Linked DNA regions of Homo sapiens: region 1 is linked to region 2. Evidence: fine-mapped expression QTL. A gene starts in region 2. The other region holds a variant in brackets. All regions are shown on one strand. Distances are between the middles of the regions.

Region 1 (4,391 bases), 130 kb before region 2:
TAATTTGTATGTTGCCTTTTGGTTTAATAGGTACTTTTCTTTCTTTTTTTTTTTGAGATGGAGTCTCGCTCTGTCGCTCAGGCTGGAGTGCAGTGGCACGACCTCGGCTCACTGAAGCCTCTGCCTCCCGGGTTCAAGCAATTCTTCTGCCTCAGCCTCCCAAGTAGCTGGGACTACAGGTGCGCCACCACACCTGGCTAATATTTTTTGTATTTTTAGTAGAGATGGGGGTTTCACCATATTGGCCAGGCTGGTCTCAAACTCCTGACCTCATGATCTGCCTGCCTCAGCCTCCCAAAGTGCTGGGATTATAGGCGTGAGCTACTGGGCCCAGCAATAGATACTTTTCAATATTTGAAAAGAATATTGTTTGGGAAAACATTTCTGACAAAATTAAATTTTTTACATAAACTTATTTTGATGAAAATGTTAAGATACTTGTACTGTGAATATGACTGTTTTAATCCTTACATGTATTTTTTTTTTTTTTTTTTGAGATGGAGTCTCACTCTGTTGCCCAGGCTGGAGTGCAGTGGCGCCATCTTGGCTCACTGCAAGCTCCGCCTCTCAGGTTCACGTCATTCTCCTGCCTCAGCCTCCGGAGTAGTTGGGACTACAGGCACCCGCCACCACGCCCAGCTAATTTTTGTATTTTTAGTAGAGACGGGGTTTCACCTTGTTAGCCAGGATGGTCTGGATCACCTGACCTCGTGATCCGCCTGCCGTGGCCTCCCAAAATACTGGGATTATAGGCATGAGCCACCGCGCCCAGCCTTCTTACATGTATTTTTAAATCTTGACAATAATAATTGATTTTGCTGAAAGGAATAAAAATAAATTTCATGGAATAGTTTCAGTAATTTATAAATTACACATATCTTTATTTTATTACGCATCTCAATATTAAGAATTGCTTGAACCCGGGAGGCAGGGGCTGTAGTGAACCGAGATCGCGTCACTGCACTCCAGCCTGGGCAACAGAGTGAGACTCCGTCTCCAAAAAAAAAAAAAAAAAAAAGCAAAAAAATTTTATGATCTTTGATATTTTGCTAACTTTCTGTCATGTACAAATCATAGCTTCATACACATTTTTAAATTTTATCATTTTAAAGGAATATTTGTCAGGGGATGAGGTTAGAACATACTTTATTTAACACCCTGTTAGTTTAATTTATAATTTGGAAATATTTAGACAGATGGCCTGTGGCGTCCATCTGTCCTCTTGCCCCAAACTGCACGTCCAGACTTGACTCATGGGCCCCAGCTTGGGTTTTTGATAGGAATCTTCCCAGGGCTCATGTTTGTAATAGCTGGGGGGGCCAGGGGTGGAGGGTCCCTCTGGTCCCCCTTTGAATGCTGCAGACACCATCTTCTCTCAGATTTTAAGCTGCAGAGACCAAATTTCCAGCATGTGGTCCTGGGCTATGGAAACCTCTCCTCCTGCCCAGGACTCTCACTCTACAGAGATGAGTTCATTCAGGTCCCTGAAGCCCCTGTAGAGTTCTGGCCATAAATGGTTCCTCATAAAGTGGTGCCCCCAGGATGTTCAGCCTCCCCGCCCCCGCCCCTGCAGACCTCCTATCCCAGGGTGCCATATGCTGCTGCCCTGCTGGGAGGAGAAGCCCGGGGGGCATGGGGCAGCACTGCCTGCTTAGAAGCCCCTTGTAAACTTTCTTTCTGCCAGATCCTGCCGCCCTGTTTCAGAGGGTAGAGTGGGCCAGCAGTAACAAAATGTTTCCTCCCTTGCCCCTTTCTGGTAGAAATTTCTCCCAGACTTCCTTGGTGACTAATGGTGTTGGGATGTTGTGGCCTTCACAGGGAGGGGACAGGTTGTCAGCTCACAGTTTCACAGATGGTTGACCGATGCTGACAGTAGCTGGCAGGTTTCTTTTGGCTGCAAGTGACAGAAACCCAACTCAAACTTGTTCGCAAGTAGGGACATTTACTGCTTCTCAGAATTGAAGGAAGGGGAA[G/A]GGTGTGTTTGGGTCCCAGAAAGGGTGGACCGTGGGACTGGAATCCGGTCCAGACTCCACTCCCTCTTCACAGAAGCTTAGCACCTCAGATGGGCTGTGTCCTCTGGCCCTGCACACATGGGCTTCCTGTTGGAAGCTGAGCAGCTCCACCAGCTTCCCCTTATAAATGTAGTGACTGGCGCAGAAGCGTTCCTATGACTATGGGGGGTGACAGGGGACCGGGCACTGGCACTGGCAGCCCCCGCCTAAAACCCCATGAGAGAAGGAGTTACCCCAAAGGTGGTGCTGTTCCCAGAAAGGAAGGGAACAGCCCGTGCTCTCCACCCTGTCCCACCCAGCCATTTTCCTCACAGACGTCACCTGTGCTTCCAGGCCCAGCTGCTATTTCTGCCTGATGCTTAACTAATTTGCATGGTTAAAACCAGCATATTTCCAGGAGATGGATAATGTCACAGAACTGGGGTTCCAGAAGGCTGGGGTGGTCCAGCACTCCTGCCTTCTTTAGAACATGGAGAGCTGTTAGTTGGGCAGGGCTGAAGCGTAGGTGGCGAGGAACAGGAGGCTCCTACTGCAGATGGCCTTGTTCTTCGGATCCTCCCAGAAATCCCCAGGCCAGCTGGAACCTGGGGTCAGAGAGGGATGGGAGAGAGGTAGGCTGTGAAAGGGGGTGGGAACACACCTTCTGGAACCACTGTCTTCCTTGAGGGGACCCCAAGAGGGGGCTTGATGGGCAGGGATGGAGCTTCCTCCTTCCCGAGGCTCAGTGACACTTATCTCTGAGGGACCCTCCTGAGACAGTGTGGGGTAGTTTGTTGTTTGTCCGAAATTCTAATTTAACAGGATCTTGTAAATTTTATTTGCTAAATCTGTCAGCTCTGGGGGTAGGAGGATGAGAGGAGCAAAACAATGGTCCCAAGCTCAGGCTGGTATGGAGTGAGTCTTAGACAGAAAAAGAGACCAGAGAGGAAACAAGCCCACTGGGGTAGCCATCTTGTCCAACCGGAAGCCGCCTGACACTTGAAGGCGATGGATGGAAGAACTCAGCCCTCTGCCTCCTCAGCAACATGAACCTAGTTTAAGGGGAAAGACACACCTTCTCTCAGTGACAGAAATAGCCCCAGATTTTCAGATTTATCAAAAGTATTATTTTTTTCAGGCCAGGTACAGTGGCTCATGCCTGTAATCCCAGCACTTTGGGAGGCCAAGGTGGGTGAGATCAGGAGTTTGAGACCAGTCTGGCCAACATGGTGAAATCCCATCTCTACTAAAAGTACAAAAATTAGCCAGGTGTGGTGGACGGTGCCTGCAATCCCAGCTACTCGGGAAGCTGAGGCAGGAGAATTGCTTGAGCTCAGGAGGTGGAGGTTTCAGTGAGGTGAGATTGTGCCACTGCACTCCAGCCTGGACAACGGAGTCAGACGAAAGAAAAAGACAGACAGACAGACGGAGACAGAGACACAGAGAGAGAGTGAGAGAGAGAAAAAGAATTTAAATCAGCCAGTTGTAGTGGCATGCACCTGTAGTCCCAGCTATTTGGGAGGTTGAGATGGGAGGATTGCTTGGGCCCAGGAGTTTGAGGCTGCAGTGAGCTATGATTGCATCACTGCACTCCAGCCTGGGCAACAGAGTGAAACCCTATCTCTAAAAAATGAATGAATGAATGAAATTTTCACCAGAAGAGTTCTGCTTATATTTACTTTTTAAAATATTTTAGAGACACAGTATCACTGTGTTGCCCAGGCTGGTCTCTAAGTCCTGACCTCAAGCAATCCTCCTGCCTCAGCCTCTTAAGTAGCTAGGTACAAGCCACCATGCCTAGCTATATTTACCTTTTTTTTTTTGAGATGGAGTCTCTCTCGCCCAGGCTGGAGTGCAGTGGCGCAATCTTGGCTCACTGCAACCTCCGCCTCCCGGGTTCCAGCAATTCTTCTGCCTCAGCCTCCTGAGTAGCTTGGATTATAGGCACACACCACCACGCCTGGCTAATTTTTGTATTTTAGTAGAGATGGAGTTTCACCATGTTGGCCAGGCTGGTCTCCAACTCCTGACCTCAAGTGATCCGCCTGCCTCAGCCCCTCCAAAGTGCTGAGACTACAGGTGTGAGCCACCACACCCGGCCATATATTTACTTTTATGTGAATTTAAAACATGTAGGTGTGACCAACTCTTCTGCCAGCTCTTACATAAGGAGACTTTATCATCATCATCATGTTCATCATCACTCACAAACTGCTTATTTGGAACTCCCCTCAGTTCTCAGAGTGGGAACATTCTTTAAGCGGCCTTGTAGAAACCCTATTCCATGCTAACATGCCAACCAATTTTACTTTCCCAGAACCACAGAATGATATTTCATTGTATGCCTCGACTCAATCACCTTTCCTTTTTCAAGGACCATTTCAATGCCTGATTGGCTAC
Region 2 (4,391 bases):
TAAACCAGAAACTGGCTGGCTCTGGACACACTGGTCAGGCCAAGGTACCCAGCTAGTAGCTAGAAATGCAGGGAAGTCTGAAGGAAGGTCAGAGCTAAAGGAAGATCCTAAATCAGCTTCAGTGGATTACAGAAGGCAGGAAAGAAGACAATTACTAATTGCAAACAGAGAAAAAGATGTTCACAGATAGTTAAAACCGTTAAGACTAGAAATGTTAAGTTTACTTGAATTTCTAAGAAAAGTCCCTACTGATTTTCTGGATTTCACGTAACTCATAAACTAAAATACATTTTTTACCTGGTTGTTGCGGTTTTCCTGCAGCGGAGAAGTAGCATCATCAGGAAATGAGCTTACATTTCTCCTCTTCAGCATCTGGTCATCCTTCTTAGCTTTCCTCAGCTCCACATTGACCTCTATTCTGCGACGCCTCATTTCCTTGAGAAAAGATAACATGCCGTTTCACCTATCACACCAGTTTTTGTTGCTAAGTGAGGGCATTTTTTTTTTAAATACCTCAGTTTTCACCCCTTTCCAAATGTCTTCCCATTTAAATACCACCACAGGAAAGCAACAGAAGGTACTCACTGTACTGTCTTTTCCCTTGTTCTTGAATCTGTGAAGACGGGCAGCTGGTGTATTAGCATTCTCGTTGGTGGACATGGTTATGAGACAAAGGGAGAAAGCTAAAAGATGGGGGAAGAGAAAAATATTTCCTTTATCATTTTCCTTTGTCAATAATAGTACCAAATAAGAACTGAATTATCAAGCATCTACTGAATCCACACCTGTATACTAGAGGGGGGATCATCATGTTTTCGGCACTATGAAATAGCTTTACCCAAAGGGGAAGTGTCCCCCTTCCCTCTAAAGGGCTGAGACTTCCTGGAGAGGGCTCTCCATCAGAAATAGAATGCAAGCTATATAAATTGAAACTTCCTAGTAGCCATATTTTTAAAAAGGAGAAAAGAAACAAGTGAAACTAATTTTAATAATGTATTTTACTTAACCCAACATATCCAAATAGTATTTCAACGTGTTATCAATATATAAAATAACTGACATCTTCTACATTCTTTTTCCATACTCCATCTTTGAAATCTTTTGTGTACTTTAAGCTTACAGCGTATTTCAATTTGGACTAGCCACATGTATCCACCGTTTCTGACAGCCTAGTTCGATACTCCAGAGTCCCTAATAGTTAATTCAAGACAAAGTAGGGGAACCAAGTCAACTTACAGCTAAAAATTATGTGCCAGGGCAATAAATTCAGATCCTCAGGAGGCTCTCCCTATTTTACTGTCTTTACTTGGCCAAAATAGGTGCAGACTCGAAAATTAAATAAAAATTTGCTTCATCATTACATTATGGTCAACATTAAAAATGCAGTGCCGCATCTCGCATATTTGATTTGCATTTCCAGAGACTAGGAGTGAATGCGCTTAATTAGGATGACATCAGCTGTGCGTCATTCAGAAGATGACAAAAGTCAAAGCCCTCCTTACAATTTGCTATCTTTGCTTTCATTACGCTCGCCTACGACTTGGTGGCAGAGCCACCCCCGGGGCCTAGGTGTCAGAGACGGTGCTCCCAACTGCCACCCCCAGCCCCTGCCCCCACGCCGGGGAAGATGCAACGAGAAAGGAGGAGGCGAAACCAGGGCCGCCACAAGTCCTCCCGGGACATTCGCCCTCAAGCCTGGCTCGCTCCGATTCTCCCGGCCGCGACGCGTTAAGGCCTCCGCTGCCGTTTGCAGAGCGTCGGCGCCCTAAACCCGCAGACCCCGCGAAACTCAGCCGCCTGGTCAATGAACGTCGCCCCCGAGGCCTAGTCAACGCGGGAGGCAGAGCCAGGCTCGGCGTGGACCCGGGGCCTCCCTCCCCCAACCCAAAAGGCGAACGCCGCCCACGGGCAAGCCGTTAGCGCTCGGGCCGGGCCGCCGCCTGAGTCTGTACCTGCGAAGCGGGCCTGGGCTTCCACGGGAGGCGATGCGGGGGGAATCAGCGGCTGTAGGGCGACTGCGTTCAAAGGGTCCACCTCGACTCAGCTCAAAGACCGTGTGGCTCGTGCAGCCGGCCGGCGCGATTTAAATTTCCCGGTGACTCCGCATTCCGATTGGCTGGTTCGAGCCTAAGCTGTGTGCCCATTGGTGGATTTGAAAAACACGTTGGGAGGGGAGGGAGTCATAGGGCTTGGGGGCGAGTGGGAGGGGGGAAAGAAAAAAAAAAAAAGAGGATGGCATCGCGAGATGAGGGAGCGGCCGGGCGGTGAGGGAGCGGCCGGGCGGTGAGGGAGCGGCCGGGCGGTGAGGGAGCGGCCGGGCGGTGAGGGAGCGGCCGGGCGGTCCCTGAGCGCCTGGCGGGGCGGAGCGGGAGGACTCCAGATCCCGTCAAGCAGCGCGAAGGGGCGGTTCCCTGGGCCGTTCGTGTTTCCATAGGGTTGAAGCGTGCATGGTCCTTGGGCGTTTTCCTGGGCGACAGCCTTAAACAAATACCACAAAATGATTCTCTAAGTCATTATTTTAAAAACTTTGTTGTTGATCTTCATGAAAATAAAAAAATTCTAATTAGTAAATAAGTAATCTTTATAGAAAAACATATTGCTTTGCATTTTTTTCCTATTATGACACCCAAAGTACTCGGCGGGGGTTTCTGGCTACTATGGGAGGGAAGATTTGTGTTATATTTTTTAGTTTAGTTTTTTTTTAATTGCATCATAAAAGACTGTATAGAAGCCGCAAATATGGAAACAAAAGGTTTCTTATGCCTGTTTCTCCAAAAACTCAAGTTTTTTATTTTTAAATAATTTCAAATGCAGCAGAATTGCAAATCTTTATCCAGATTTGCCAAATCTTAACATTTTGCCACATTTGCTATTGCTTTCTCTATACATATATATGTATACATATGCACGCGTGTACATATGTGTGATTTTAATATGTTACTTTAAGAGAAAGTTTCAGAATCATGTCCTTTTTCCTCTGTTTCACGGTGTCTCTCCTAAGAAAAGACATTCTCTTATATAACCACACTGCAGTCATCAAATTCAGAAAAACTGAAATTTCATGCTGTTGTTTAGTATGTAGTGTGTGTTCAAGTTTTTTCAATTGTTATAGTAACATTCTATGCTCATTACACATTTCTGAATTTTGCATTTTTTGCCATATGCTCAAACGAACAAACAAAACAAAGATGGTCAACAGAGCATCAGGATTCTGGGCCATTTTTGTTTCTGCAATTTTTTTGTGTTCTAAAAGATTACATTTTAGAAAAGTTTTCATGGTTTATTTCTTACTATAAATAAATTCAAACAGCAAGTTTGTCCATTTTTGCAGGCATTAATGCCAGCCTCATTCATCGTAAAGCCAGAGTTCATAAAGGGTTGGACCTACTCTTAATCAGCATAATCCCATCCCCCTAAATGCAAGAATGTGGAAGGAATTCACCCCTAAACCAATCACTGTGTGGCATTCTCTCAGCTACTGAGAATGGTTCAGGGGCAGGCACATGACCTAAATTCATCCAGTTGGACAGCCTCTGCCTTTTGTTTACTGGTTGGAGGTAGGAAAGCAGCCTCTGTTCTTCTGAACTAAGGGATGTGAGTCCTAGAAATCTGAATAAGAAAACTGTAGGGAAACCTTGAGAGGTCTGACCTGCTCTATCTCTGAAGGTTTGCAGGTAGGAGATCCGATACACATTTCTTTTGTATTGTCAAGTTGAGTTTCTTCTCTTTTTTTTTTTCTTTTTTTTCTTTTCTTTGAGACAGGGTCTAGCTCTGTCGCCCAGGCTGGAGTGGAGTGGCACGATCTCAGCTCACTGCGACCTCTGCCTCCTGGGCTGAAGCCATCCTCCCACCTCAGCCTCCCAAATAGCTGGGACTATAGGTACACACCACCACGTCCAGCTAATTTTTGCATTTTTTGTAAAGACAGGGTTTCACTATTTTGCCCAAGCTGGTCTCGAAGTCCTGAGCTCAAGCAATCCACCCACCTCAGCCTCCCAAAGTGCTGGAATTATAGGCCTGACCACCATACCAAGCCAAGTTGAGTTTCTTTTGCTTGAAAATACTGACTACTATGTGCCCAGAAGTGTTCTGAGTGTTTACCATATATTAATACACTTGATCTTCACAACTGTGAGGTAGTACTGTTATTTGCTCTATTTCACAAAAGAGAGCACTGAATCACAAGTGTTTATGTAACTTGTTCCAGGGTCACACAGCCAGTAAATGGCAAAGACAGGATTCAGCCATAAGCAGTCTGGTTCCAGGATCTGTGTTCTGAACCACTATTCTGTACTTGCACCTAAAAACAACCTGAAACAGAAGTATAATGCCCAAAATTGCCTTTGAAAGATACGATATCGTCGGGCACAGTGGCTCACACCTGTAATCCT

Alleles and levels. Alleles are on the strand shown, and positions count from the first base shown. SD is a standard deviation of normalised expression in the study named.
As copies of G replace A in region 1, the expression in left ventricle of the gene that starts at base 2,058 in region 2 goes up (moderate effect, 0.41 SD a copy in GTEx).

Evidence for each region. PIP is the estimated chance that this variant, and not a neighbour inherited with it, causes the effect.
Region 1: its variant is the best candidate, but not a certain one, in a credible set for the expression of KPNA2 in left ventricle (GTEx, PIP 0.74).

The regions. Positions count from the first base shown.
Region 1 is chr17:68,159,642-68,164,032 of GRCh38, reverse strand. No RefSeq gene overlaps it. Among named protein-coding and RNA genes, the nearest start is that of LINC00674, 60 kb to the right of the region's middle. The variant G/A (reference allele first, on the strand shown) is at 1,974.
Region 2 is chr17:68,033,402-68,037,792 of GRCh38, reverse strand. It overlaps KPNA2 (karyopherin subunit alpha 2), which reads right to left and starts at 2,058. Exons shown (of 11, transcript NM_002266.4): 1 at 1,953-2,058; 2 at 586-683; 3 at 298-435. The coding sequence starts at 660. RefSeq lists enhancers at 1,526-1,745, 1,765-2,312 and a silencer at 2,276-2,325.